Linked DNA regions of Homo sapiens. The protein of the gene in region 1 interacts with the protein of each later gene in a biochemical or structural test. Each region holds a gene or a part of one and is shown in the gene's direction. Other genes may lie near its edges. The genes, in order: CUL9, APEX2 and UBE2G1.

What was found.
Region 2: of the proteins of CUL9 (region 1) and APEX2, one has a biochemical effect on the other in vitro, tested with the Homo sapiens proteins (one study listed by BioGRID).
Region 3: the proteins of CUL9 (region 1) and UBE2G1 form a complex in vitro, tested with the Homo sapiens proteins (one study listed by BioGRID).

Annotation. Positions count from the first base shown.
Region 1 is NC_000006.12:43,183,692-43,193,751, forward strand, and holds part of CUL9 (cullin-9), read left to right. Parts: intron 1-610; 5' UTR 611-619; coding exon 620-1,214; intron 1,215-1,764; coding exon 1,765-1,919; intron 1,920-2,263; coding exon 2,264-2,764; intron 2,765-3,268; coding exon 3,269-3,404; intron 3,405-3,554; coding exon 3,555-3,748; intron 3,749-4,021; coding exon 4,022-4,427; intron 4,428-4,501; exon of another isoform or gene 4,502-4,729; coding exon of another isoform or gene 4,730-4,745; intron 4,746-4,831; coding exon 4,832-5,024; intron 5,025-9,309; coding exon 9,310-9,517; intron 9,518-10,060. UniProt on the Homo sapiens protein: Core component of a Cul9-RING ubiquitin-protein ligase complex composed of CUL9 and RBX1. The CUL9-RBX1 complex mediates ubiquitination and subsequent degradation of BIRC5 and is required to maintain microtubule dynamics and genome integrity.
Region 2 is NC_000023.11:54,994,793-55,005,312, forward strand, and holds the start of APEX2 (DNA-(apurinic or apyrimidinic site) endonuclease 2), read left to right. Parts: upstream 1-5,570; 5' UTR 5,571-5,630; coding exon 5,631-5,787; intron 5,788-6,753; coding exon 6,754-6,837; intron 6,838-7,458; coding exon 7,459-7,639; intron 7,640-8,169; coding exon 8,170-8,316; intron 8,317-9,006; coding exon 9,007-9,076; intron 9,077-10,520. UniProt on the Homo sapiens protein: Functions as a weak apurinic/apyrimidinic (AP) endodeoxyribonuclease in the DNA base excision repair (BER) pathway of DNA lesions induced by oxidative and alkylating agents.
Region 3 is NC_000017.11:4,354,795-4,364,854, reverse strand, and holds part of UBE2G1 (ubiquitin-conjugating enzyme E2 G1), read left to right. Parts: intron 1-10,060. UniProt on the Homo sapiens protein: Accepts ubiquitin from the E1 complex and catalyzes its covalent attachment to other proteins. In vitro catalyzes 'Lys-48'-, as well as 'Lys-63'-linked polyubiquitination. May be involved in degradation of muscle-specific proteins.

The DNA of each region.
Region 1 (10,060 bases):
CCCTTCCTTCCTTTCTTCCTTCCTTCCTTCCTTCCTTCCTTCCTTCCTCTCTCTCTCTTTCTTTCTTTTTTTCTTTTTTTTGACAGAATCTCACTCTGTTGCCCAGGCTGGAGTACAGTGGCGCGGTCTTGGCTCACTGCAACCTCCGCCTCCTGGGTTCAAGTGATTCTCCTGCCTCAGCCTCCTGAGTAGCTGGGACTACGGGCATGTGCCACCACACCTGGCTAATTTTTGTATTTTTAGTAGAGACGGGGTTTCACTATGTTGACCAGGCTGGACTTGAATTCCTGACCTCGTGATCTGCCCACCTTGGCCTCCTAAAGTGCTGGGATTACAGGCGTGAGCCACTGGGCGCAGCCAACTCTTCCATTTCTTAAACCCCTTCTTCATCCCCTCTCTGTCTTCACTCCATTCTCCTTCTGTTATAAATCCCAAAGTATGTTCAGCTATTTATTCCATCCTATTTTTTGCCTTTTCTGTTTGGCCTCCTAAATTCTACCATGCAGCCTACCGATCACCACCCACCTTCTCTGTGTCTCAAGATTCCACCCCCTCCATGTATTTTTTTTCTTTTCTCATACTGCCTTATCTTTCTCCTTGTGTATCCCAGGAGGTCAGGATGGTGGGGGAACGGCATGCTGGGGACCTCATGGTGCCCTTAGGGCCTCGGCTGCAGGCATATCCTGAAGAACTCATTCGACAGAGGCCTGGGCATGACGGGCATCCTGAATACCTGATCCGATGGAGTGTCCTGAAGTGTGGGGAAGTGGGCAAAGTGGGTGTGGAAGAAGGCAAAGCAGAGCACATCCTCATGTGGCTGTCGGCTCCTGAGGTCTACGCCAACTGCCCTGGGCTGTTAGGTGAGCGGGCACTATCTAAGGGACTTCAGCACGAACCAGCTGGGGTTTCAGGAAGCTTTCCTCGAGATCCAGGAGGCCTGGATGAAGTGGCAATGGGAGAGATGGAGGCTGATGTTCAGGCGCTGGTACGCAGGGCGGCCAGGCAGCTGGCAGAAAGTGGGACCCCAAGCCTCACGGCCGCTGTGCTTCACACCATCCACGTGCTCAGTGCCTACGCCAGCATCGGGCCCCTCACTGGTGTCTTCAGGGAGACAGGAGCCCTGGACCTGCTCATGCACATGTTATGCAATCCTGAGCCTCAGATCCGCCGGAGTGCAGGCAAAATGCTGCAGGCTCTGGCAGCCCACGATGCTGGTAAGAGACAGCCAGGGAAGAAGGAAAGGAATGGAGAAAATGGGGCCACAGGGAATAAGAAAGAGGAGAGATTTCCTAGCTCTGTAAGAACACCTAGTATTTGGTGAATATCAATTTGATGCAAAGGAAAAAATATAGATTAATAGGCTATTTCAGGTATATAAAGAGGCTAAAATGATAGCCTCTGGCTTATCTGTTCATTCTCAGTGCATTGACCAGAGAAGAGAATAGGACTTATCTGTATTTTTGAAACTGGATTGAGATTTATTAGTTGGTTTTGAAATCAATTTGGTGGGTTACAACCAACATTTTTTTAAAAACTTAAGTCATTAGTGTGTAGCACTTAGTAGGGGTAAATTTTGTAGCATAAAATATATGTTTCAGTTATATGTATGTATGTTTGTAACAGGTTACCATGTAAAATGTATTTCTTTCTGTGAGCCTTAGTAACAAAGTTTGAAAGCGTCTGGGGTAGGAGATAGAATCTAGGAAAGGCAGGGAGAAAGTACTGGGGATTGAGGAGAAGATATGGATTGGGTATGGATTACAGGGAGTCGGGCTCACGTCCTTCTATCACTGAGCCAGCAAGATGGCATCGAGCAGCACATGGATTTTGACAGTCGCTATACATTGCTGGAGCTGTTTGCAGAAACCACATCCTCTGAAGAACACTGCATGGCCTTTGAGGGCATTCATCTGCCTCAGGTACACTGCCAGCTGTAGGGAAATGCTGTGTACAAGGGCTAAGACATTATTTATGAAAACGTGGTTCAGGACTGAATGTTAGCACCAGAGCCACCTGGGAACTTGTTAACATGAAGGTTCATGTCCTCCCTCCCAGCCCCTCTCCATTCAGAATTTCTGAGATGAGAACCCAGGAATCTGTGTTTTAAGACACTCCCTATGCCTTTCTTACACAAATCAAAGTTTCAGAACTACAGGCCTGGGGAGAAGGCCTTTATATTTTTCTGTAGAGGAGGATACTTCAGGGAAGGGGAGAGGCTAAAGCCAGGAAGAGATGAACCTGTCCCAAGGATTGTGTCTTACAGATCCCAGGAAAGCTGCTTTTCTCCTTGGTGAAGCGCTACCTTTGTGTCACGTCCCTCCTGGATCAGCTGAATAGCAGTCCAGAGCTGGGAGCTGGAGACCAAAGCTCCCCATGTGCCACAAGAGAGAAAAGCCGGGGACAGCGGGAACTGGAGTTCAGCATGGCTGTGGGCAACCTCATCTCTGAGCTTGTGCGGAGCATGGGCTGGGCCCGGAACCTCAGCGAACAGGGCATGTCACCTCCCCGGCCAACCCGGTCCATCTTTCAGCCCTACATTTCAGGCCCCAGCCTTTTACTCCCCACCATTGTCACCACCCCCAGAAGACAAGGGTGGGTCTTCCGCCAGCGCTCTGAATTCTCCAGCCGTAGTGGCTATGGAGAATATGTGCAGCAGACACTGCAGCCAGGGATGCGAGTGCGGATGCTGGATGATTATGAGGAGATCAGTGCTGGGGACGAGGGCGAGTTCCGGCAGAGCAACAACGGCATTCCCCCTGTGCAGGTGGGCAGCACATGGTGGTGAGACACTGTTGGGAGTTTATTTGGGGTGGGGTGTAGCTGGGACTTCATAAGGAGGACTCCTGCAGGCCACCCAAGAAGAACCCCCCTGGGGAATTGGAATGATACAAGGGGGTTGGCATTTGTGCGGGGTGCATTTGGAGGGCTGAGAAAATCTGGCAGGGGTGTGGGTGGGCTGTAAGTTCATGGGAGACTCACCCAGGAAGCAGAACTGATAAATGGAGATACCTCCCCACCAACACCAGTGGAAGAGGCTAGGAAGGAATGTCGAGGCAGAGAATCATGGTTAAGAAAAGAGGCAGGGCCCACTCCTGATAAGGGAAGGAAGCCTTTTGCCATATGGGGGTTTTTCCAGGCTTAGCCAGGTGTGTATCTGAGGGTGCGCCCCAGATCTATGCTTGGGCATGTCCTTTCAAGCCTTCACAGGCCAAGGCTCAGAGGGTTGAGCCTTCTCTATTCTGCTCTCTTTCTTCCTCCCTCATACCAGGTTTTCTGGCAGTCGACAGGCCGCACTTACTGGGTGCACTGGCACATGCTGGAGATCCTGGGCCCTGAGGAAGCCACTGAGGATAAGGCTTCAGCAGCTGTGGAGAAGGGGGCAGGGGCTACTGTGTTGGGCACAGGTGAGCCTAAGAGGGGACATGGATAGCATGTCTCTGAACAGAGGATTAGTGACTGGGATGAAGCCACTTCTGACCAGGAGCAGCCCTAGGGGTCCAGAAATAGACCCCATTCCTGAGGGGTGCTGATGCCCGCCATGCCTGTGTCCTCAGCATTTCCCTCCTGGGACTGGAATCCTATGGATGGGCTGTACCCTTTGCCGTACCTCCAGCCCGAACCTCAGAAGAATGAGAGAGTGGGATATCTGACCCAGGCTGAATGGTGGGAGCTGCTTTTCTTTATCAAAAAGTTGGACTTGTGTGAGCAGCAGCCAATTTTCCAGAATCTTTGGAAGAACCTGGATGAGGTATTATAGGTCTGAGATACCTGGGGGTTTTCTAGTAGGGTTAGAGGTGGGATTCTCTAGAGGGAGTTTCAGATAGGGGTTACCGCTTAGGGGGAGGCTGGAGCTAGAGATTAGAGTTAGGAGGAGTCCTGCTGGGGGTTGGAGGCAAGTGCTGTGAGGGTCTAGTATGTAGAAGGTGTGGGGGCATGGTAGGGAGTGATCACCCTTCCCATTACTGACCCCAAGACCTTTGTGTCTGCTTGTCTCTTAAACGTATACCCCTTCTGTTGACAGACCCTGGGTGAAAAGGCCCTAGGTGAGATCTCTGTGTCCGTGGAAATGGCCGAGAGTCTGCTGCAGGTTCTCAGTAGTCGATTTGAGGGCAGCACTCTCAATGACCTGCTCAACTCCCAGATCTACACCAAGTATGGGCTGCTGTCTAATGAACCAAGCAGCTCGTCTACTTCACGAAATCACTCCTGTACCCCAGATCCAGAAGAGGAGTCCAAGTCGGAGGCCAGCTTCTCAGAGGAAGAGACTGAGTCCCTCAAAGCAAAGGCCGAGGCCCCTAAGACAGAGGCCGAGCCCACCAAGACAAGGACCGAGACCCCCATGGCACAGAGTGATTCTCAGCTGTTTAACCAGCTTCTGGTGACTGAGGGGATGACCCTGCCCACTGAGATGAAGGAGGCAGCCAGTGGTGAGTCAGGTTCTGGGAGGAAGCAATTGGAACAAGTCCTGGGTAGTCTCAGTAGAAGAAATGGATAGTCAGGATCGAAGGAAAGCCATGGAGGAAGGTGATTTTTGCAGGGGAAAATGCCTTGGAACCATGCGTCCATCTTCTTCCTTTTGACCTTGATTGTATTTAATTAACCAGCGCTCCCTTCCTTCAGTATCTCTGGAAAAGGAGGATCCGTTTTCTGGGGTGTCTTCATCTCCTTTGTTTGATCATTAGATCCCTGACACAGAATTGGAAAACTCTGCAAGCTGCAGTAGCCGATAATGTGTTTAAATATTGGTAGGATAACTGGGCTTGACTTTAAAGACTTCTAACTTCAAGGTGCCACAGTTCTTTTAGCCATTGCCTTTTCCCACCAATTTCAGAAATGGCCAGAGCCTTGCGGGGTCCCGGTCCTCGCAGCTCCCTGGATCAGCATGTGGCAGCGGTCGTGGCCACTGTGCAGATATCCAGCTTGGACACAAACCTGCAGCTTTCAGGGCTCTCTGCCCTCTCTCAGGCTGTGGAGGAGGTCACTGAGCGGGACCACCCTCTGGTCCGTCCTGACAGATCGCTGAGGTTAGCATACTGGGGAGGGAAGAGGTTTTGGTTGAAGCTGTAGGCAAAGGATGGTGGTAGCGGGGAAGGAGCTTTGAGATCACGAATTAGAAAAGCTTGGGGTGAGGGAAGGCTCAGCCTGAGGAGCAGCCGAGCAGGAGGGTTGGATGTTTTAATGGCTCGTATTCTTGGAGCACTTCTGTTATGCCAGGCACTGTGCTAGTATTTTACATGCATTCTCTCATTAAATCCACCTAACACCTGAGGAAGCGTTGGTAATATTATTATCCTACTATATGGGTGAGGAAACTGAAGCTTAGAGAATTTAAGTAACTTGCTTAGAGTTTTACAGATAGCAGAGCCAGGATTCAAACCTAGGTCTTTTTGGCTCTAGAACTGGAGTTTTTTCTCTTTCTTTTTCTTTTTTTTCTGTCCCTACGTACTTTTTTTTTTTCACATTAGACCTTAAAACCTACTTTATTTTAAATTTTTTTCTACCTTTATTTATTTATTTTTGAGACAGTCTTGCTATGTCGTCATGCTGGAGTGCAGTGGCGCGATCTCGGCTCACTGCAACCTCTGCCTCCCGGGTTCAAGGGATTCTCCCGCCTCAGCCTCCCAAGTAGCTGGGATTACAGGCACCACCACACCCAGCTAATTTTTGTACTTTTAGTAGAGACAGGGTTTCATCATGTTTGCCAGGATGGTCTCGATCTTCTGACCTCGTGATCTGCCTGCCTCGGCCTCCCAAAGTGCTGGGATTGCAGGCGTGAGCCACCGCGTCCAGCCCTCTACTTTTAAATTATACAAATAACACACAACTTATTCTCATTCTATTTATTTATTTTTATTTATTTACTTGTTTTTGAGACAGAGTCTCACTCTGTCACCCAGGCTAGAGTGCAATAGTGTGATCTTGGCTCACTGCAACCTCCGCCTCCTGGGTTCAAGCAGTTCTTATGTCTCAGCCTCCCAAGTAGCTGGGATTACAGGTGCCCACCACCAGGCCCAGCTAATTTTTGTATTTTAGTAGAGACGGGGTTTCACCCTGTTGGCCAGGCTGGTCTCGAACTCCTAACCTCAGATGATCCAGTCTCCCAAAGTGCTGGGATTACAGGTGTGAGCCACCATGCCCAGCCGCATTCTCATTTTAAAAGATCTGAAGAATGTAAAAGGACATAGGAGGGCCAAAGTCCTTTCTCACCACTGTTATCAGTCTACTATATCCTACAGATTTGCATTTGTAATTGTGTGTTTGGAAATAGAGCATTTTCTGAGTCTTTGTTTTAGTCTATGTAATCACATTCTACATGTTTCTACAACTTTTTTTTTTTTGCCCCCGCTCAGTGTCTTAGAGGGCTTTCCATATCAGTCTGGGTGGAGCTGCCTCATTATTTTTACTGCTGCATGGGACCCTGCAGTGTGGTTATCTCCAGTTTCAAGTGCAGTGTTCTAACGCGTCTGTTTTTCCTTACGTCTGCCAACACTGAATATTGTCGTCTTTTTTAATCTATCTAATTGGCAGCATTTTAAATGATTGGTATCTCTTTGTTTTAATTTCCTAGTTCTGGTAAAGTTAGGCACATTTGCATACATTTGTTCTGTTTTTTTTTTTCTATAAATATTCTGTTATTATCCTTTGCCCACTTTTTAATTGGATCTTTGCCTTTTTTAATGTATTTATAGGCATTTTGGTTATTCCTTTGTTATTTATGTTCCAGATATTTTGCTTGTCTTTTTAAAAATCATCTTAGCTCTATTTTTTGGTTATAGAATAATACATATGGTAAAAAAGTTAGAAAATTATTAAAATAAAAATTATCTGATCATATTCAAGTGAGATTGACAGAAAAAAAATCTGAAAGCCATTAAGACAGAGACAATCACTATTAACATGTTGGTAAACATCCTTACTTATTTCTCTAGTCATATGTATTACCCATGTATATTATCTGGTATATAATAAATCATGGCCATGGAAGGGGATATGTATTTCAAGCATATTTCATTCACACTGTTGTCATTATTAAACTTCTTAGAAAAGATAGATTAAAAACAGAACTTTCCCAGAAGTTCTCCTTCTGTGTTCTTTCCCCTCGTAGTTCCCGAGCCACCTCCTCAGTTGGCCTCACTGTCACTGTTAAGCAAGAGTCAATACCTGCTATTTTCTCTCCTGACCCTCACCGTGATCTAGGGACTCTAGAGGCACTTCTTCCTCTTCTTTTAGATCAGCATTTCCACTGGCCCCTTTCTCTAGCTCCTGCGCTTGTCTCGTAATTTTGTGTATAGTGTTTTTTTCATCATGCTAGAGTTTCAGACTTTTTGTTGCTACATTTTTCAGCTTTTTTATGGCTTCTAGATTTTGTGTCCTACTTAAAAGGATCTATTCTGTTCCAGAATTATAAAAATATTTTCCTATATTTTCCAAAAATACCCATGATTTTGTTTTTTTTAAATTTATTTAAAAATTCATTTGCAGTTTATTTTTGCAAATGTTGTGAAATAGAGCTCCAGCTTCAGTGTTTTCATATGGATAGCCAGGTGTCTCTAAATTGCATTGTGTGTGTGTGTGTGTGTGTGTGTGTGTGTGTGTGTGTGCGTGTTGTTTTTTTTTTTGTTTGTTTTTTTGTTTTTCAGAGACAGGGTCTCAGTCTGTTGACCGGGCTGGAGTGCAATAGCAAGATCACATAGCTCACTACAGCCTCAAACTCTTAGCCTCTAGCAACCCTTCTTGCTTATCCTCCCAAGTATCTGGGACTACAGGAATGAGCCACCACACCCAGCTAATTTTTTTTTTTTTTTTTTTTTTTTACTTTTTGTAGAGATGGGGTCTCACTATGTTGCCCAGGCTGGTTTCAAACTCTTGGCCTCAAGCAAGGCCTCAGTCAATAATTAATTAATTAATTTTGAGACAGAGTCTTGCTTTGTCGCCCAGGCTGGAGTGCAGCAGTGCAATCTCGGCTCACTGCAACCTCCGCCTCCTGGGTTCAAGCGATTCTCCTGCCTCAGCCTCCTGAATAGCTGGGATTACAGGCCTGCACCACCACGCCTGGCTAATTTTTGTATTTTTAGTAGAGATGGGGTTTTACCATGTTGGCCACATTGGTCTCGAACTCCTGACCTCAAGTGATCCACCTACCTCAGTCTCCCAAAGTGCTGGGATTACAGGTGTGTGTCACTGTGCCCAGACAACATTATATTTTAAATGGTTCTTCCTTTTTTTTTTTTTGCTGGCTTATACACCACCCTTATCTCTCTTCTCATCTATTGATCTATTTAGCTACCCTATGTCAGTTCCAGGGTTGTAGTTATTACAAGTTTATATTTATATTTTGATAATAATAGGCAAGCCTACCCCTTTTCTCTTTTTTTTTTTTTTTTTTTTGAGACAGGGTCTCACTCTGTCAGCCAGGCTGGAGTGCAGTGGCATGATCACAGCTTGCTGCTGCCTCGACCTCCCAGGCTCAGATGATCCTCCCACCTCAGCCTCCCAAGTACCTGAGACTACAGGCACAGGTCACTATGCCAGATAATTTTTTGTAGAGATGGGGTTTTGCCATGTTGCCCATGGCAAAAGCCATGGGCTCAAGCAATTTACCTGCCTCAGCCTCTCAAAGTGCTGGGATTACAGGCATGAGCTGCTGCACCTGACTACCACTATTTTTTTCTCAACATTTCCAAGGCTTGGATCTGCCTGTTGTGGTGTTTTTAAAAACCTTTTAGGCCAGCACTTTGCGAGGCCAAGGCAAGTACACTGCTTGAGGCCAGGAGTTCGAGACCAGTCTGGGAAACATAGCGAAACCCCGTCTCTACTGAAAAACAATACAAAAAATTAGCTGGGCGTGGTAGCACGCACCTGTAGTCCCAGCTACTCAAGAGGCTGAGGCTTGAGAATCACGTAAACCCAGGAGGCAGAGGTTGCAGTGAGCTGAGATCGCGCCATTGCACTCCAGCCTGGCAACAGAGCAAGACTCCATCTCAAAAACGAAAAGACAAACAAAACCACCTTTTAGGCATTTTGATTAGTATCACTTTGAATTTATAGATTTATTTGAAAAGGTGAGCCAGAGTTTATAAACATTTTTTCTAATGCCTCCTTCATTAGCCGAGGAGCCAGAGGCAGTTAGGCTGCAGAGGGGAGGGGATTGGGGTGAGACTGAAGCCAGGAGAGCAGGTTTGGGTGGGGCAGAGAGGATGGACTAGATCTTGGTGGATGGGATTGGTCAGGGAGTCCGACGGTGCCATGGCTGGGAGGTCAGGCAAGACTCCTTGGGATGGGGAGCCCCAATATCTCTTCTCTTGTCAGAGAGAAGCTAGTGAAGATGCTGGTGGAGCTGCTGACCAACCAGGTGGGAGAGAAGATGGTGGTCGTGCAGGCCCTGCGCCTCCTTTACCTGCTCATGACCAAGCACGAGTGGCGGCCGCTCTTTGCCAGGGAGGGTGGCATCTATGCTGTGCTGGTCTGCATGCAAGAATATAAGACTTCTGTCTTGGTGCAGCAGGCTGGGCTGGCGGTGAGTACATTGGGCCTGGCGGGAGAGAACAATGGGCAAGACAGGCAGACTGGGGACTACTGATCTTGAGGGGGTACTTTGGTGCTTCAGATCAGTGAGTAGACTTTGGAATGGAAAGATGCAGATGGTTTTAAGAGTTTGATCTGGACATTCTTCGGGATTAAGTGTTTGGAAAAAGGGAAAAGGGAGTTTTGGGGTTATTTTTGTTGGAGACAGGATCTTGCTATGTTGCCCAGACTGATCTTGAACTCCTGGGCTCACGTGATCCTCCCACCTCAGCCTCCCAAAGTGCTGAGATTACAGGCATAAGCCACTGTGCCAGGCCAGGAGGTTTTTTGTTTGTTTGTTTGTTTGTTTGTGATGGAGTCTCGCTTGTTGCCTAGGCTGGAGTGCAGTGGCGCTATCTCGGGTCACTACAACCTCCACCTCCTGGGTTCAAGTGATTCTCCTGCCTTAGCCTCCTGGGATTACAGGCATGAGCCACCGTGCCCAGCCCAGGCCAGGGTTAAGAATGACTCCCGGGTGTAAAATTAAGGAGCAGGG
Region 2 (10,520 bases), on another chromosome or scaffold:
CGATCATCTTTCTACTCTCTCCAGCCAAGGGCTAAATAAATAGGAGTAAACTGACACCTTTGGAAGAGTGCAGCCATTGCCTGGGGCTGGAGGTGGGGGAATGGTAAGCTCTGCCCACATGGCTGTTAGCCACCATCAGATGCCCTAAGGAGAATGACACTGGCATCATGAACTGATAGAAAATTTCACTAAAGTTCCTCATGCCAAGCTATTAGGATGGAGATTTAGGAGGGTGGAGGCTGCAGCAGGGAACAGAGAGCAATGGCCTCAAAGTAGGACAAGTCCATAGGCCAGAGTCATCCAGCCCAGATGACTCACTCTCACCTGCCCTCTCCCGCTCCCCTGACCCGTTGTTTTGAGGCTTTTATGTGTATAACTCATAGAACTGCACAGCTTGCCTCGAAGATGCACAAGTGTCCTCTTACTTCACTCTTTTGCAACCTTCCCACCCCCAATGAACCTCCAACGATTGGCTATGAAGAAGCTCAACTTTCTTCCACTGAGCTGGGCTACACAAGGGCAATCTCTTGGGGACAGAAATTTCCAATCCCTGCCCTCAAATGCTCTCAGTTCCACTTTGCCTTTTAAGAAGTTCCCTAAAATACATTTGCAAGCCGTAGTCTACACAAGGGTCAGATTCCCTCCAGTTGTTGTGTATAAATCATACCAAATTTTTAATACATTCCAGAGCCCACCTATCTAAATGAATCAACTGAGATAGCAGATCATGATGGTTAAGAGCAATAGGCTCTGGAGCAATATTTCTTGAGTGGAATCCTACCTCTGCCCCTTGTTGGCTATGAGGCAATGAGCAGAAGACTAAACTTTTCAGTGCTTCAGTTTTCTTATCTGGAACATGGGAATGATAGGAGTACCTACCCTCCTTAGGACTGTTGAAGATTCAATGTGTTAAAAAATGTAAAGCAATCTGTGAAATGTTAAAAATATATTATCTAACACTGTTACTCCCTTTGGGAGGTAAATGATCAGACACCTCCTTGACTAATCTGAAACTTCTAATATAATGCTGACCATACAGAAAACTCTCAGTTAAGGAAACTTACAATATTATGGGAAAGGGTTAACATTTATAATACACAAAGAGCTCCTGCAAATCAATTAGAAGGATGAATTTGGTTTTACTCTTTTGATTTTGTGTAAAGACTTGCAAGATCATTTCATCTCACCCTCTCAGGTAAGAAAACTGAGGTCTAGAAATATTTTCCTAAGGTCATGTAGTAAATCAGTGGCCAAGTCAGGAATAGAACACTAGGGACCTAATTTCTCCCAGGCCAGGGCTTTTCTTTAATTAATCAAACAAGCCTGATCTAAGAATGTGGTCTTACAGGTTAGCTCAGAACCTCTAGAGTCTCAGAACTAGACTTTGTAAGAGATACAACTCTTTTAATTCTAATAAATTTCCTAACTGGTATAAATCTGTTAATATTAATAATCTTAATTATAACCCTTTCCCTGTATGTTTTCCATTGCCCACAAAGCAACAACATATTCCTTATCTTATTTGATCCTTGCAAACATCCTTGTTAGCCTTACAGGGAAACTGAGGTCTGGGGAGGGGAAGTGGCATGTTCAAGGTAATCTAGCTGGTCACATGAACATCTCTTTTATGTTTACAATTTTGTCCTCATGGCCCTGCCAACAGGCAGAAGGATAATTTTAGCAGCAGGAAATCTGAGATAAGAAGCTGGCAGGCTTTTGACAAAGTCTTAAAGGGTAAACCTGGGGTCCAGGCTTGAAAGCCTAACTTAAAATTGCCTGGAATTAGCTATGAGATTCCTCACTACTGTTACCAATTCTGATCCCAGAAGCAGGAGACCAAAACAAGCTTTATGGAAAGACCTCAGCTTGGCACTCAAGACTTTTCAATCAAGCTTCAGCCTATCTGTCCAGCCATATCTCTCCTTAGATCATCCTTAAACTGCACTGGCTGACTCACTGGGCCCCAAAATACATGGTGTATTTTCCTGTTTTTTGGCCTTTGCTCAGCCTGAAATGCCATTTTCCTCCTTCTATTCCCAACAAAATCTGATCCACTTTTCAAGGTCTGGTTTGATGTTCACTTCCTCTGGGAAGTGACCCCTGTATCCTTGGGACAGGCCTTGTATTTGGTTCTTATATTGCCCACATGCTCCTATCTGAGCAAGTATCCACCAGTATTTTCCTGGTCTGCTTCCCCACTAGACTGTGAACTCCTTGAGTATGGAGACTAGATCTCAGTGATCTGTAATTTGTGTTTCCAGTGTCCAACTCAGGCCCTGGCACAGAGGACAGAGAAGACACTTGCTTATTGTGTTTGTGCAGTCTACATCTCTCTGCCCTAGATGAGATGAACTTGTGGACAACTAATCCTAGTTCAACAAGGTAAATATTATAACAGAGAGCTGTGCAGGGAATTGGATGGGAGAACTAATTTGTCTGAGGTAGGAGGTGGCATCCAGAAAGGTTTCTCTACCTTGAATGGGACAGAAACAGATAAAAGAATGAAGTCCTCTCTGAAAAGGGCCAATGAACTCGTGGCAGAGAAAGGGTTCAGTCAGTACCAGATTCTCATTCAAGATCAAGCTCTGACCTGCAGCTCTTGGTCTAAAATTCTAAAATGGGGCTATCTCTAGGGAAGAAAAGATTACAATGTGATTTCCCAAGGCCCCCAGATCCTGACCCCATACCCCTCCCAAAGTATAGGGCATGTGTATCGGGGGAGAATACCATGTAAAGCAGCATATGACAGTGCTGATGGATAATAAAGTCACGAATGGGGTCTCCCTATTGGTAGCTCTCAGACTGTTTGGGTATGAATGCATTTGTGGAGAGTGAAGGTGTGAGGGGAGATCGACCACACACTTACAAGCTAGGTGCATGTATATGAGTGTCAGGCCTTCTGTGACAGCAGCCTAGGATCCCCTTCCTTCTCACCCACTGTCCTGGCCCACCATCTCTCCACTATTTTCGGCCTCATGCCTGGGCCCCAAACCTCACTGAATCCTAGTCATGGAAGTGGCTCTCCACAGACTATAGTCGCACAGCAGCTGGAGGGTTTTGGGTGGGATTGCTTGTGGAGCCTATAGAAAAAGCAAGATGACTACTCTTAGAGCGAGGAAGTCCTGAAATGTCTCCAAAGAGCTTTGGTTTCTGCCTTTCCACTCTTCTTGATCGTGACAGCCCTCTGAGGAACGTTGGCTAGAGACTTTGATTTCCATTTTACTGAGGAAGCTACTGATGCCCAGAGAAGCAAGAGAGCTTGTTCAAAGCGCCACAGCAAATCAACCCTACTTTACACATCAGTGGGGAGGTAAGAGCTATAATCTCAATCACTCAGTTCATTCAAAACCAGACTTGACCAAGTTAGAGAGACTTTCACAGGTGCTAGTGAATTGCCCTGGGGGCCAGTGTCCCATAAAGGCCAGAATGGACTTTTAAAAATATACAGACAGATAAATAGGTTACATATAGATATAATCTTTTCCCCCACTTTCCCATGCCCTTTAATGCACACGACAACCAACCATCTATGCAAAGAAAACTTTCCAGAGGGCCTGAAGAATGGATGTGGATTTGTGCAACTCCTGCCTACTTTCCCTTCTTTCTCACCTACCTTTTATTCTAGAGGTTTTTTCTTCCATCGCTAATTATCCAACACTCGGTTCTCTTGCATTTACAGACCCCCAAGGCAGGTCCAGTGGGTGGCATCAAAGAGGAAGCCTGGAGGTGTTCGTTGGTTCCCTGAGAAGGCTGAGGACGTACCCTTGTTAAGTGGGGGATGTATGTGCTCTGTTGAAATATCAGCTGTTGTAGTTGCCAAAGACGTTCCTGAGCCACCAGAAGCCTTTTCTCTTCAGTCCAACCATGTGTTCACCTTGCCCCAAAGGTCAGAACTAATATTAACAAGCCACTGCAGAATGGGGAAATTAAAACCAGCCATGGAGACAGGCAAGTTCTGGATTTCGCTGGTGCTGAGTTTCAGATCGATCTTCAGTGTAAATGGGCATAATCCCTTACTGGAAAGCAATCTGGCAATATGAAGCAAGAGCAATAAAAATGTTCATTTCCTTTGTCCTAGTTATCGCACTCATGGGAGTCAATCCTGAGTCAATAACTCCCAAAGCATGAAGAAGCTCAGGACATGCAAATTTTTATTTTAATCACAGAGCTATTTTCTGATAGCAACAACTGGTAACCTTTTAAGTCCTCCAGGAGGAAAAGCAGTTTACTGCGTCTTTGCTGTAACCATTGAGGATGATGGCTCTAAGACTTAAATTCTGGGGAACAAATAATTATGCTGCAATTCTGGGTGAGGAACCTAAAGATGCATCGTTATGCTTTTCCCTGGACATTGGGCATATCCATTACTTCTAATTTTTGTGCTCTCAAAAACAAGCCATGAACCTGTCGATGCTCTTGCTATTATCCTTTGTTCATTCATTCACCTGACAAATATCTATTGCTTCCCAACATATGCTGTGTCCAGTATTAGGGGATGGGGCTAACAAGATGAACCAGACATGGTCATTGCTCTCAAGTTGCTGGCATTCTAATGGCAGCAGAAATAGAAGTCAATGATAGCTGTGTATTATAAGTACTGTGACAGAATGGACCATAGGGTGCCGTGGGGCCCCAGAGGAAAAGACTTAACTGGGGAGGTGTGTGGTCAGTAAAAACACTCAGAAAAGTAATTATTGAGCTAATTAAGACAGGGTGTGAATCCTGGCTCTACTACTTCAGTGTAAGAGAGAGTGAACTGTGAGAATGAAATGAATTCATTCGACGTCTCTAACTTAGCCTCCATGTCCCGAACTGGGTTGTCTTGAGAATGAAATGAGATAACATATACAGAAGAGCCATGGATGCATCCGGAGACAATGCTGCTCACGAGCTTACATTTCCTGGGCTTCGATTTCACTTATCTGAGAAACAGAACCAAGAGTAAGGATGTGTCCGGCTACATCCTTCAGAATGTTAAGAGCCAAGACAAAAGCTACAGGGCAGGCTTGAGACAGCCTCCTCCTCCTCCCCTCTGCCCCAATAAAGCCAAAGGCCCTCCTCCTAAGTCTTATCTCAGTGGAGCGACTCTTACTGCTCCCTCCTCCAACCATGAACTTCCCTTTGCCCAGTCCAACGCGAGCACTTAGCGCCAGCTATTCCTGGGGCGCAAGCGCTGCAGCCATCTGTGAACTTAGGTGGGCGGTCCGCCGCACTGAGGGCGGGGCTTTGGCAGCTGAGCAGTTCCGCTCAGGGTTCCGTCGCTTAAAAAGTGGCAAAATGCCGTTTGTAAGTAACCGGACGCACCACTTGGACTTCTGAGTAGAGGAAAAACGCATTGAGACTCAGCTGTCCGAGCGGAAGGAGCGGGAGCCCAACTGGAAACTCCTCTCGCCATTCATTGCCCCTAGGCTTCCGCTTTGCTTCCTTCAGCGTCCACCCAGTTCCTCCTCCCGCCAATGAGAGCTGAGGAAGTTGAAGCCCCCGCCCGACGTGCGTCAGGCGCTTTAGTGGTACGCACGAGAACGCCTGCGCAAACGCGCGCGGGAGGCGGGCCTGGCCAACTTCTGAACAGGAAGCAGTTCGCTCGCGCCTAGGTTGGCGCGGGCTGGGAGGTGTTCCAGCCCTTTAAGATGTTGCGCGTGGTGAGCTGGAACATCAATGGGATTCGGAGACCCCTGCAAGGGGTGGCAAATCAGGAACCCAGCAACTGTGCCGCCGTGGCCGTGGGGCGCATTTTGGACGAGCTGGATGCGGATATCGTCTGTCTCCAGGAAACCAAAGTGACCAGTGAGCGCTCTGGATTCCAGGATCCCTACATACTTTTTCTTTCCCGCTAACTTTTGTCCCCTGTCCCATGTAATTTTACTTTCCCAGTTTCCTATTCTTAGAGTCCTGTCCTTAGACCCAGGTCCCTTCCCTCTTAAACTTCCATTTCCCACCCTAGCTAGATCCCCTAATTGCACTCCATCTCCTGTCTTCAGCAAACTTTAGCTCCTTCTCGAAACCCCATATCTAGTCAGATTCCCACTCATTCTCCGGCCCCAAACTCAGTCCCCTGAATTTCCTCCTTCCATACGCTGTCCATCTCCCCGCCGCCAAGTCAAACCCCCGAATTCTTCATCCCTGCCCCAAGCTCAGATCCTCTAATTCCCACCCCATCTTTGACCCCAGCTCAGTCTAATTTCCTCTTTTTCACATTTCCACCTCAGAACCCCAGTACCCCTTATCTATTCCCATCTCTCCTCCCAGCGGAAAGTCCCTAATTCCCACCTCATTTCCCACCCCAAGCTTAGATGTCCTCTTATTTCTTCACCCTCTTATCTCCCCTCAGAATCCCCTAATTCCTTTTCCCTCCACCCCCAGTTCAGATCCCCTAATTCCCTCTCTCTTACCTCTCACCCTTAGCTCAGATTCCCACCATCCTCTCGTATGTCCATCCCCATCCCCAGCTTCCTCCTATCGTTCAGACCCCCAGGCTTAGCTCTGATTCTTTCCCCTTCCCACCTAATTCTCCACCTCCACTTCATAGTCTCTAACCGCCCCCCACCAAGCCTTCTAATTCTGATATCAATTTCCTCTCTGACATTTCCCATCTTTCTAGGTCCTCCTCTAATCATGGATATTTCATTCCCGTCACCCCCAACTCTGGCTCTGATGTGTGCAAGGAATTAGCCTACAACTGTAATTCCAGGCCTTTGTGTTTCTCGGATGCTAGTTTTACCTCTGACTTAATCTTACATTTTTTTTTTCCAGGGGATGCACTGACAGAGCCCCTGGCTATCGTTGAGGGTTATAACTCCTATTTCAGCTTCAGCCGCAACCGTAGCGGCTATTCTGGTAAATGGGGCTTTCTGTGGACTTTAAATTAGTGAGGGAGGCAGATAGGGGAAAAGGGTTTCCAATATTTGATGAGAGGGTAATAAGAAATCTTAGACATTTAGTTTACAGAGCTAAAGCTGCATAATAGTAAATTACATGAAATATAATTTTTATGGATAGAATTATCCTACTGGACCTCAGAAGTACAGTAGTAGTGTGGTGCTTAATTGTGTGAACTGTGGAGCCAGACAGCCTGGGTTTGAATCATGGCTCATTTCCTAGCTGTGCACCCTCTGGCAAGTTACATTACCTCTTGGTGCCTCAGGTTCCTCAGCTAGAAAATGAGGATAATGTTTACCTTCCGGGGCTGTTACAAGGATTAAATGAATTAATCCATGTGATAATAATAATTGCTAATACGTCTTGAGCACTCACCATGTATCAATGTAAAACACTTAGAACATTCTGTGGCTTTTTTAGATGTAGGAACTGAGACTCCAGGGTTTGAATAAGGTTGCCCAAGAACCACACTTTATGAAGATGACTTAGATGACTTGTGTGGGGACAATTGGAGTGGGACAGGCTGTGCAACAGGCTATTGACTGCCAGGTCTGCTCAGAGTGCCCTGTCTGTTCCCAGGTGTAGCCACCTTCTGTAAGGACAATGCTACCCCAGTGGCTGCTGAAGAAGGCCTGAGTGGCCTGTTTGCCACCCAGAATGGGGATGTTGGTTGCTATGGAAACATGGATGAGTTTACCCAAGAGGAACTCCGGGCTCTGGATAGTGAGGGCAGGGCCCTCCTCACACAGCATAAGATCCGGTAATAGCTCATATCTCCCTGCTACTGAGCACTGCTGGTGCTACTCTTTGAGTGTGAAGATTCTAAGGCTTGCCATGTAAACATACATGCACCGTGGAGAAGTTCCCAAATTTGCCTTTCCTGGTTTAGTCCTGGCTGGGCTACTCAGTGTGTGACCCTGGCAAATTTTTCCCCCCTCTGAAGCTTGAGTTTCCATCTCTACAATGTGGGGCTGGCCTAGTGATCCAGCTCTTATTACCATAGACATCTCAAAAGCAACTTAGTGCTGAACTCAGTGCCCCAGGTTGCTGTCTTTCTGGGTGTTCTGTGTGAATAGCAGCACCATTACCTGGTGGTAATCCTTAGATATCCCTCTCCCTGCCTTATCAGTAGTCAGTCCCCAAGTCCTGTGCATGCCAGATCATTTGTGTCTCTTTAACCCCTTTCTTTTCCATCCCAGACAGTCACAAAATGGAAGCCATGTGGTATGGGGAAGGGACAGAAGGGGAGGTTTGAAACTGACCCCTTTTGGGGGTTTCTCTTTTCTCCAGCACATGGGAAGGTAAGGAGAAGACCTTGACCCTAATCAACGTGTACTGCCCCCATGCGGACCCTGGGAGGCCTGAGCGGCTAGTCTTTAAGATGCGCTTCTATCGTTTGCTGCAAATCCGAGCAGAAGCCCTCCTGGCGGCAGGCAGGTACTGCAAGCCTGGGCAGTAAGGCTTCCTTGAGTTGGTCCTGGGTGCCCAGCCCTGTGTCAAGCTCCATTGAAAGGGATATGGACCCTTTGTCTCTGAGTTCTTTCACAGCATAGTTGCAAACACCAATATGCCCACCTGAATAGGCTCTGCTCAAAACAAACATGGGTTTTGTACTCTGAGCACCTATTCAGGCTCCTGCTCTTACTCATTGTGAGCCCTAGGGCTAGTCTTGCCTCTGTTTTCTCTTTTGTCAAATGAATATATGAATCTCTACCCTACACAATAGTTTTAAGGGTAAAATGAGATGAGAATGGTAAAGTGCGTGGGAGCAAAGGAAAGTCTTGTTCCAGCGGAGGACAGGAAAGTGAGGGTGGGTTAGAGCAATCAAGGGGAGGTGGTATCTGAGCTCAGCTTTGAAGGACAAGAAAAATGCCCATTGGCTCCTGATTAGTGAGGCAGTCATGTCAAACATGGAACACTGTCACCTTTGGAGATCAGAATTGGGTTGGTCAGATATGAAAGGCAGCAAGTTTGTGGTAAGATTGGAGAGGTAGGCTGTTATGAGTTGCTGTTGGCTAGGAAGCCTCAATATGGGAGAGGGCCTGTCTGAGCTCTTGGGCCCAGGAAAAAGTATATGGGCCAGGACTGCTGCACCCCTTTCTAACAATCCCACATTGTGTTTTTCAGCCATGTGATCATTCTGGGTGACCTGAATACAGCCCACCGCCCCATTGACCACTGGGATGCAGTCAACCTGGTAAGGCTCCCTCTAGGTGCCTGGCCCCACTCCTGACTGATTCTGTTTGTCCAGCCAACCAACCCTGAGTTTTTGGCCCAGGGACAGCTTCCTTTATGGGAAAGCGGAGCTTGGCTTGCAATACTATTCTTATAGTACTGAGGATTGGTCATTCATTCAATAGACAATACTGACTCTGCCCATGGCCTGGCCCTGAGCCACATACTGAGGACTCAGGAGTCAGATCCAGCCCTTGGCTCCTAGGAGCTCTCCAGCATGGTGGTGGGCTACAGACACATGGCTAGCCAATTATAGGATGGTATTCTCAGGGCAGAGGCACAGATGGCATCCCAGAAAGCTACAGGAGCTCAGAGATGGGATTCCTAGGTGAGCTCGGACATCAGGACAGGCAGCTGAAAATGGCTGAATCTTAACAGATGAGTAGAACAGAGCTTTGAAGTAGAAAGCATTCTAGCATGGGCAAAGGTTTCAAGGTGAGAATTTGCATTGTGTGCATGGGGAACCACAAGTCCCTTTCTTCTTAGTGACACAGGAAGGGAGGTGAGTGGCAGAAGGTGGGGCTGGAGAGTTGTTGGGGGTCAGATTTCAAGGACTGTGAATTCCACATTGCCTTGGTCATTTCCTTAATACACTGTATTTCTTGTTTATGAACTTTCAGTACCTCCCTGTTACCTCTGTGATGCAGAGAAAACATGGAGACCTAGCATTCAAGGCTCTCCTTGGTCTGTGACCTGTCTCTTATTTCCACCTTCAGTGTCCCTACACATTTTGTCCTCTCTAGACAGGTTGTCTCCTGTCGGCCCGTTGTAAAAGTTATTCTCATTCTGGCTTTTCTCACTGTGCCCTGAATTGGTGGACATGACCCCCTCCCTGTCTTTTTGTTATATGAACCTCTTATCTCTAAGTTCCCCTAGGCCCATGGTTTTCAGCCCCTAACTGCATATTAGAACAAAAATATCAATATCTTAGCACTACTCCAGATCAATGAACTCAGAACTCTCGAGTGTGGGGCCAGGGTAGTGGCACGTTCTAAAAGCCCCCAGTGTGACTTTATTGTGCAGCCAGGCTTGAGAACCACTGCCCTAGAATCCACAAGCCAGCTCTCATCTTTTCTTGCCTTATGTCTCACGATGGGGGATCAGTGATTTATGCTGGTACAGTCCTACTCAGCACTGGGCTTGGCTTAGAGAAGGGACCGTGGGAATATTCCTTGATTAATTCACAGAAGAGCTACATAAATGTAGATATGGCTCCCAGCTGGGAAAATGAGCAGAAGTGAGAGAATGAGAGAATGGTGGTGGTGGTGTGGTGGGGAGCGGAGATAATGCTACAAAGTGTGAGCCTTCAGTCCCTCCCTGCCTCATTCCTCTTATGCATTCATTCAGTGTGTTCTTTCAGATTCCTGTGATAGCATCATACATCTTTGTGCCTTTTCTACTTAGTT
Region 3 (10,060 bases), on another chromosome or scaffold:
ATCCCAGCACTTCGGGAGGCCGAGGCTGGCGGATCACCTTAGGACAGGAGTTCAGGGCCAGCCTGGCCAAAGTGGTGAAACCCCCGTCACTACTAAAAATACAAAAAATTATTCGGGCGTGGCGGAGGGCGCCTGTAATCCCAGCTACTCAGGAGGCTGAGGCGGGAGAATTGCTTGAACGCGGGAGGCATCGTTGCAGTGAGCTGAGATCGCGCCATTGCTTTCCAGCCTGGGCAACAGAGCGAGACTCTGTTCAAAAAAAAGAAGGGCCGGGCGCGGTGGCTCACACCTGTAATCCCAGCACTTTGGGAGGCCGAGGCGGGCGGATCACGAGGTCAGGAGATCGAGACCATCCTGGCTAACACGGGGAAACCCTTTCTCTACTAAAAATCCAAAAATTAGCCGGGCGTGGTGGCGGGCGCCTGTAGTCCCAGCTAATCGGGAGGCTGAGGCAGGAGAATGGCGTGAACCCGGGAGGCGGATGTGCAGTGAGCCGAGATGGCGCCACTGCACTCCAGCCTGGGCGACAGAGCGAGACTGTGTCTCAAAAAAAAAAAAAAAGAACTTTATTGCATTTTTTTTTTTTTTTTTGAGGCAGAGTCTCACTCTATTGCCCAGGCTGGAGTGGAGTTGCGCGATCTCGGCTCACTGCAACCTCTGCCTCCTGGGTTCAAGTGATTCTCCTGCCTCAGCCTCCCGAGTAGCTGGGATTACAGGCGCGCGGCACCAAGCTTGGCTAATTTTTTGTATTTTTAGTAGAGATGGGATTTTACCGTGCTGGCTAGGCTGGTCTTGAACTCCTGACCTGGTGATCCGCCTGCCTGGGCCTCCCAAAGTATTGGGATTACAGGCGTGAGCCACCGTGCCCGTCTGCATCTTTTTTTTTTTTTTTTTTTTTTTTTTTGAGACGGAGTCTTACTCTGTTGCCCAGCTGGAGTGCAGTGGCGCAATCTCGGCTCACTGCAAGCTCCGCCTCCCGGGTTCACGCCATTCCCCTGCCTGAGCTTCCCGAGTAGCTGGGACTACAGGCGCCCGCCACCACGCCCGGCTAATTTTTTGTATTTTCAGTAGAGACGGGGTTTCACTGTGTTAGCCAGGATGGTCTTGATCTCCTGACCTCGTGATCCGCCCGTCTCAGCCTCCCAAAGTGCTGGGATTACAGACGTGAGCCACCGGGCCCGGCCTCTCTGAATTCTTACATAATGGAAAAGATAAACATTTAAAAGGTGTGAAAGAAGTTATGCATTACTAAGAAAGTAAAATAAGATAACAATGTCAGCAGCAGCAATGTGTGAAAGGATTTCCTATCCGTTTGTGAACCAGCTCTAGATTTTGATGGTCATCTGGTTCCGTTTTGCACTTTTTTTTGACAATGTATATAGCAAATATTAATAAAACGTCCCAAAGCTCTTTCTTAATGATTGACTTTCTGATGGGGCATACTAAAATACACTTTAAGATAGAGGAGAGAACAATTTAATTTGTATTTTTTCAGGCCTCATTGTAAAGTTACTTAGCTGCAGATTTAAGTTTTCCTGCCTTCTTGATCAGAAACAATGGGATTGTTTTTAATTTTTTTTTAAAATTTGAAGCATGTTAATTAACATGCTCAAAATGTACAAAGTAGTAGGGCAAGGCAAATGAATTTTAATTGAAATGTAAACATATCAAATTTATTGGAAAGATTCGATAACTACACACAGTGAAATAAAAGCCTTGTTTTATTTTATTTTTGAGACAGAGTTTTACTTTGTTGCCCAAACTGGGGTGCAGTGGCGAGATCTTGGCTGACGACAACTTCTGCCTCTGGGTTCAAGTGATTCTCCTGCCTCGGCCTCAGAGTTGCTGGGATTACAGAAGCCCTCCACTGTGTCTGGCCAATTTTTGTATTTTTAGTAGAGACAGGGTTTCACCATGTTGGCCAGGCTGGTCTCGAACTCCTGACTTCAGGTGATCCACCCACCTCGGCCTCCCAAAGTGCTGGAATTACAAGTGTGAGCCACCACCACCTTTCACCCAGACTGGAGCGCAGTGACATAATCTCAGTTCACTGCAACCTCCGCCTCCCAGGTTCAAGCGATTCTGCTGCCCCCTGCGGCCCCCAGTAGCTGAGATTACAGGCATGTACTACCACGCCAGGCTAATTTTTGTATAAAATTTCCAAAAACTTAAAACAACAATGGCTACATTTATTGAACCTCTAGTCTGTCAATCCTTAAGGATTTAAATTAATTACTTGGTAGAATATATCGGGTATGTTTTGTTGATAACATAATGAAGAATCTGGTTACTTTCAGAATTGAACAAAATGGTTCCTTGGGTTGTGGAGTGTCTCAGTCTTGGCGCTACTGACGTTTTGGGTTGAGTATTGTTGTAGGGCCTATTCTGTGCATTATAGATAGAATGTTCAGCAGCATTCGTGGCCTTCACCCACTAGATGCCAGTAGCATACTCCCTTAGTTGTGACAACCATAAATGTCTCCATTGCCAAATGTCTCCTGAGGGACAAAATCATCCCAGATTGAAGATTACTGAGTTAAAATGTTTCAGAGAAGACCATTATGGCTAATTGTTAAGCAAATAAAGACACCTAACAGATTCATGAAATCAGATAGGTTGTGTATTTCTCTGTGGATATTATTAGACTATGACTTACTCCTTTGCAAATTGAGCGGTGGCAATTCAAGTTTTGCAGTGCCTTATGTTAAACACTAAAAAATCCCTCAGCACAGGAGATACTTTTAAAACATTTTATCTTTTGAAAAGGTATTATAAGCATTGGTTAAAAATGCAAAGAGTACAAAAAAACATAGTCTTTTCACCCTGGCCATAAGTTCTTTTTGTGGAAGCAACCCATCATTGACAAATATGTCTTTTTTTTTTTTTTTTTTTTTTGAGACAGTCTTGCTCTGTCGCCCAGGCTGGATTGCAGTGGCCCAGGCTGGAATGCAGTGGCACGATCTCCGCTAAGTGCAACCTCCGCCTCGCGGGTTCAAGCGTTTCTTGTGCCTCAGCCTCCCAAGTAGCTGGGATTACAGGTGTGTGCCACGATGCCCAGGCTTATTTTTTGTATTTTTAGTAGAGACAGGGTTTTTGCCATGTTGGCCAGGCTGGTCTTGAACTCCTGATCTCAGGTGATTCACCCGCCTCAGCTTACGAAAGTGCTGGAATTACAGGCATGAGCCATCATGCCTGGCTGACAAATGTGTCTTTTCAGAGAGGTTCTTGTATGTATGTTTATATAGGCTAACGTTTACTGAGGACTAACATGTACCAGGCACTGTGCTGAGTACTTTATATATTTATTTTATTTTATTTTTATTTTTTTGAGACGGAGTCTCACTCTGTCACCCAGGCTGGAGTGCAGTGGTATAATCTCAGCTCACTGCAATCTCTCCCTCCTGGATTCAAGGGATTATCTTGCCTCAGTCTCTGTAGTAGCTGGGCTTACAGGTGCTGGCCACCATGCCCAGCTAATTTTTGTATTTTTAGTAGAGATGGGGTTTCACCATGTTGGCCAGGCTGGTCTTGAACTCCTGACCTCAAGTGATCTGCCCACCTTGGCCTCCCAAAGTGCTGGGATTACTGGCGTGAGCCACCACCCCTGGCCTCTATTGCATTTTTTTTTTCCCAACACAGAGTCTTGTTCTGTCACCCAGTCTGGAGTGCAGTGGTGCGATCTTGGTTCACTGCAACCTCCGCCTCCTGAGTTCAAGTGATTCTCCTGCTTTAGCCTCCCAAGTAGCTGAGATTACAGGTGTCCACCACCACGCCCAGCTAATTTTTGTAGTTTTAGTTGAGACAGGGTTTCGCCGTGGTGGCCAGGCCGATCTTGAACTCCTGACCTCAGGTGATCTGCCCACCTTGGCCTTCCAAAGTGGTGGGATTTACAGGCAGGAGCCACTGCGCCCAGCCCGTCTATTGCATAGATGTATATTTTTTGAGACGGAGCTTCACTCTTGTTGCCCAGGCTGTAGTGCAATGGCATGATCTAGGCTCACCACAACCTCCGCCTCCCCAGGTTCAAGTGATTCTCCTACCTCAGCCTCCCCAGTAGCTGGGATTACAGGCATGTGCCACTACACCTGGCTAATTTTGTATTTTTAGTAGAGATGGGGTTTCTCCATGTTGGTCAGGCTGGTCTTGAACTCCCGGTCTTAGGCGATCTGCCCGCCTCAGCCTCCCAAAGTGCTGGGATTACAGGCGTGAGCCACTGCGCCGGGCCAGTTTTATTATATAGTTTGTTAATACACATTATATGTTGTGATATTTCCATATATAGTTGTGAAATTAGGTGCATTTATCATTATTTAATAGAGTGGATCTAGGGTGGAAAATCTGATAATCCAGTGACTATCATTATATTGTTGCCTTTTGACTTCCTTTTCTCAGGTGAAGAATGTTTGATTGCACTGTCAAGATGAGTTTCAATCCTTCGCCTCTTTTGGTCTTGGGTACTTCAGTACAATTTTTTTGTTGGCAGGAGGGTACAGTGTGGGCATTCCTTTGCTTTAAGCAAGTAAAGTATTAATTAAGCACTCTTTTAATGAGATCAGTTTGATTTAGGATAAATAATTTGGCATTTCTTAATTATTGAAACCTTTTTTTTAGATTTAAATTTTTGTTAGAATTTAGATGACCTCTAAGGGTGTGTCTAATGTTACCTTTCATTGGTTTGTAGGAAATAACTTTTCAGAGAAGGAAGTGTGGGCTTATGGAAACAAATCTGGCAAGGTAAACATAGTGTAGTTTTATATGGTTAATAGCATTTCAGGTACAGAAAAGTACAAATCAGAAAAAGCAAACATTTTCCAAATTTTGGTAATGAATATGAATTATTGGTATAAACAGATAAATGATAAAGAATAAAATGTAGTTTCAGGAAATAAGATATTTAAATGTTACAATAAAACATTCTAAACTTTTTCCCCCTAGTGCAAGATAGTATTGGGCTAATTTGAGTTAATCAGCAGTTTTTTTTTGTTTGTTTTTTTTTTTTTTTTGAGATGGAGCCTTGTTCTGTCGCCCAGGCTGGAGTATAGTGGCGAGATCTTGGCTCACTGCAGCCTCTGCCTCCCGGGTTCAAGTGATTCTCCTGCCTCAGCCTTCTGAGTAGCTGGGACTACAGGCACACGCCACCACCCCTGGATCATTTTTGTATTTTTAGTAGAGATGGAGTTTCACCATGTTGGCCAGGATGGTCTCCTTGGCCTGCCTTGGCCTCCCAAAGTGTTGGGATTACAGGCGTGAGCCATCGCGCCCGGTCTAATCAGAAGTTTTTATCAGTGCTGTTCCATTGATAGATTCTGGCCCTCATAGAAACTTCTGGAAGAAATACTGTACTGTATTGCTGTTGCTGTAGAGATGTATACCTCTTTTTATAAAGTTATGTTCTAGATTTGCAACAAGTTAATTTTTGTAAGCGGAAATATTTTATTTTACCTTTTATTTAACCTTTATACCCATGTCCAGTGACTTAGAAAAACTGCTATTGCTGTATCTTTGCTTTTTTTCCTTTAGCTATTCTTATTTACTCTTCTATTGGCTAGGGATATGTTAAAAATACAAAAAACAAAGACCTTAAATTTTTACCTGGCAGCTGTTTGTTGTTTGTTTGCTTTAATCTTGTAAAACAAGACTGCTTTTAAGTAAGTTTATCAAATAGGAATTTTTAAAAAAGTTCTTTATGTCAGGAGACACTTTTCCTTTTATCAAATAGGAATTTTTAAAAAAGTTCTTTATGTCAGGAGACACTTTTCCTTTGCTTTTGAATGTACATGCATTTTAATTACATTATCATATTCTTATGTAAGGTATATATTTTCTAGGGTTTCTATGTTAAGACAGAGTAATGCTAGGCAAAGAGTTCTTTTTCCTTTTTTTTTTTTAATTTTATTTTTTTGAGATGGAGTTTCGCTCTTGTTGCCCAGGCTTAAGTGCAGTGGCACGATCTCGGCTCACCGCAACTTCTTGCCACCTGGGTTCAAGCGATTCTCCCACTGCAGCCTCCCGAGTAGCTGAGATTACAGGCATGGGCCACCACACCCAGCTAATTTTGTATTTTTAATAGAGACAGGGTTTCTCTATATTAGTCAGGCTGGTCTTGAACTCCTGACCTCAGGTGATCCACCTGCTTCAGCCTCCCAAAGTGCTGGGATTACAGGCGTGAGCCACGCGCCCAGCCAAGTTCTTTTTCAACTTGATGCCAAAAGCATGAGCCATAAAAGGAAATATTAGTAAACTGGACATCATGAAAATTAAGAATTTTTACCTGATTAAAGACTGTTAAGAGGATGCAAAGACAAGCTACAAACTGGAAGAACATTTGCAAATCACATATCTGGCAACTGATTGTATCTAGAATATTTAAAGAACCCTCAACAGTTTAAAAAAAAAAAGTCAATTCAAAAAAATGGGCAAAATTAGACAGGTGTGGTGGCTCTCATCTGTAGTTTCAGCTACTAGGGAGGCTTGAATAGGAGCATCGCTTGAGATGGGGATTTTGAGGCGGCAGTGAGCTGTGACTTCACCACCGCTACACTCCAGCCTGGGCCACAGAGCAAGGCCCTGCCTAAAAAATAAGGGCAAAAGACACCAAGAAACATTTCACTGAAGAGGACATACAAATAGCAAACAAGTGACAACATGTTCAACATTATTAGACATCAGGGAAATGCAAATTGAAATCACCGTAAGATATCACTACTTACCTGTTAGAATAGTTAAAATTAAAAAAACTGTAACACTAAATGCTGCCAGGGACTTGGAGAAACTTGAACTTTTATACATTGCTGGTGGGAATGTATAATTGTATATCCACTATAGATAGAAAACAGCTTGCTTTTTTTTTTCTTTTTTAAGAGACAGGGTCTCTCTCTCTTTGTGTCTACATATATCTTTTAAAAATTTTTTATAAAAATAGAGATGGGGTCTTGCTGTGTTGCCCAGGCTGGTTTTGAACTCCTGGGCTCAAGCAGTCCTCCTGTCTTGGCCTCCCAGAATGTTGGGATTACAGGTGTGAGCCACCACATCCAGTCTATTTTTTTTGTTTTTTTTGAGACAGAGTTCCGCTCTTGTTGCCCAGGCTGGAGTGCAGTGGTGGGATCTTGGCTAGATTGTCCTTCTTTATGGGTGGTCTTGGCACCTTTGTATAAAATTCTTGAAATGACAGAATTACAGTGATGGAGAATAGTGGTGTTCAGGGATTTAGGGACATGAGGGATATGTGGTATACAGTAACATGAGGGATCTTTGTGGTGATGAACAGTCTTGTATCTTGATAGTGATTACACACATCTGCAAATGTGATAAAATTGCATAGAGTTATACACCCACCCCCCCCCCCCACACACACACACACACAACCGAGTGATGACATCTGAATACAGTAGTCCTCCCTTATCTGCATGGGATAAATACTTTCCAAGACCTCCAGGGGATGCCTGAAACCACTGATAGTCCTGAACCTTGTGCTTTCTCCTATATATGCATACCTATGATAGGATTTAATTTATGTTAGTCTAACAACAATAATAACACAGAGCAATGATAACAATATGCCGGCATTACTACTCTTGCACTCTGGGGCCATTATTAAGTAAAATAAGGGTTACTTGAAACCAGGCACTGCTAAGTGATAGGCAGGAGGGACAGTGTGAGATTTCATCATGCTACTTAGAACAACACAAAATTTACAACTTAGGAATTGTTTATTTTTTCTGTTATTTTCCATTTAATATTTTCAGACTGGGCTTGACCACAAGTAATTGAAAATGCCGATGGGGCAGGGGTGGGGGGACTATAAAGTATATGGATTGCACCACTGTCGATTTCTTGGGTTTGATATTGTGCTAGAGTTATACAGGGTGTTAGCATTTGGGAGAAACTGGGTAAAGGTTACAGGAAACCTTTCTGTACAGTTCCCCCTTGTCCTATGGGACTGTATTTCAGAATAAGAAGTTTTTAAAAAAAGTCACCTGTAACCATGCATTATTATCAATCCTTTTTCAAATAAAGAACTTAATATTTGTAGTTATAAATACAACTACATGGTTGCTCTATTAACATGTTCAAGGAACAGGAAGTTGAAATAGAGAAACCTGTAGTTTAAGACAGAAATTCCGTCTTAATTTTATTTTTTTGTTATTATTTTTGAGACAAAGTCTTGCTGTGTTGCTCAGGCTGGTCTTGAACTCCTGGACTCAAGCAATCCTCTTGGCTTGGCCTCCCAGAGTGCTGGGATTACAGGCATGAGCCACCACGCACAGCTACCATCCTAATTTTAAATAGCAGTCTTCATTTAAACTTGTGTGGTTGCTTGGAAAATGGAATAAAGGATCAGCATAAAAGTTTATTTATTGAGCCCTTATATGCCGTTGTATTGAGATGCTGCGGGAACGCAAAGGTAATTGATGTGATATCCCTACCTTGAGGTGCTACATTTAGTAGCACTATGTAAACAACGTTTTTTATTTATTTATTTATTTAATTTTTTTTTTGAGACAGTTTCGCTCTTGTCGCCCAGGCTGAAGTGCAGTAGCACCATCTCGGCTCACTGCAACCTCTGCCTCCTGGGTTCAAGCGATTCTCCTGCCTCAGCCTCCCGAGTAGCTGGGGTTACAGGCGTGTGCCACCAGGCACAGCTAGTTTTTTGTATTTTTTAGTAGAGACGGGGTTTCTCCACGTTGGTCAGGCTGTTCTCGAACTCCTGACCTCAGGTGATCTGCCCGCTTCAGCCTCCCAAAGTGCTGGGATTACAGGCGTAAGCCACCGTGCCTGGCCTTTTTTTTTTTTTTTTTTTTTTTTAAAGTGAAACAAGTTTATTAAGAAAGTAAAGGAATAAAGACTGGCTACTCTGCCAGGTGCAGTGGCTCTCGTCTGTAATCCCAGTACTTTGGGAGGCCGAGGCGGGCGGATCACCTGAGGTTGGGAGTTTGAGACCAGCCTGACCAACATGGAGAAACCCCATCTCTACTAGAAATACAAAATTAGCTGGGTGTGGTGGTGCACACCTGTAATCCCAGCTACTCAGGAGGCTGAGGCGGGAGAATCGCTTGAACCCGCGAGGTGGAGGTTGCAGCGAGCTGAGATCATGCCACTGCACTCCAGCCTGGGGAACAAGAAATTCCGTCTCAGAAAAAAAAAAAAAGAATGGCTACTCCATAGGCAGAGCAGCCAGTAGTAAATGAATTTTTTTTTTCTTTTTTTTTTTTGAGATGGAGTTTCACTCTTGTTGCCCAGGCTGGAGTGTAGTGGCACGATCTCAGCCCACCGCAACCTCGGCCTCCCAGGTTCAAGCGATTCTCCCGCCTCAGCCTCAGAAGTAGCTGGGACTACAGGCGTGTGCCACCACAACCGGCTAATTTTTGTATTTTTAGTAGAAATGTTGTTTCACCATGCTGGCCATGGCTAGTCTTAAACTCCTGACCTCAGGTGATACACCCGCCTCGGCCTCCCAAAGTGCTGGGATTATAGGCTTGAGCCATCGCTCCCAGCCAGTAAATGAATTTCTAAGGAAATAGTCTGGCAGGCCGGGCTTAGTGACTCATGCCTGTAATCCCAGAGTGACTCACGCCTGTAATCCCAGAACTTTGGGAGGCCGAGGCAGGTGGATCACCTGAGGTCAGGAGTTTGAGATAAGCCATGGCCAACATGGTGAAACCCCATTTCTACTAAGAATACAAAAATTAGCTGGTCGTGGTTGCACATGCCTGTAGTCCCAGTTGCTTGTGAGGCAAATCACATCAAATCTTTGTTTTGTTTTGAGACAGGGTCTTGCTCTGTTGTCCGGACTAGAGTGCAGTGGCAACATCAAGGCCCGCTGCACCCTCCACTTCCTCGGCTCAAGCAATCCTCCTCCCTCCCTCCCTATAGCTGGGACTATAGGCATGCACCACCACACCTGGCTAATTTTTCCTTTTGATAAAGTCTTGCTCTGTCACCCAGGCTGGAGTGCAGGGATGTGATGATGGCCTACTGCAGCCTCAATCTCCCAGACCCAAGTGAACCTCCCACCTTATCTGCCTCCGTAGCTGGGACTACAGGCACGCGCCACCATGCT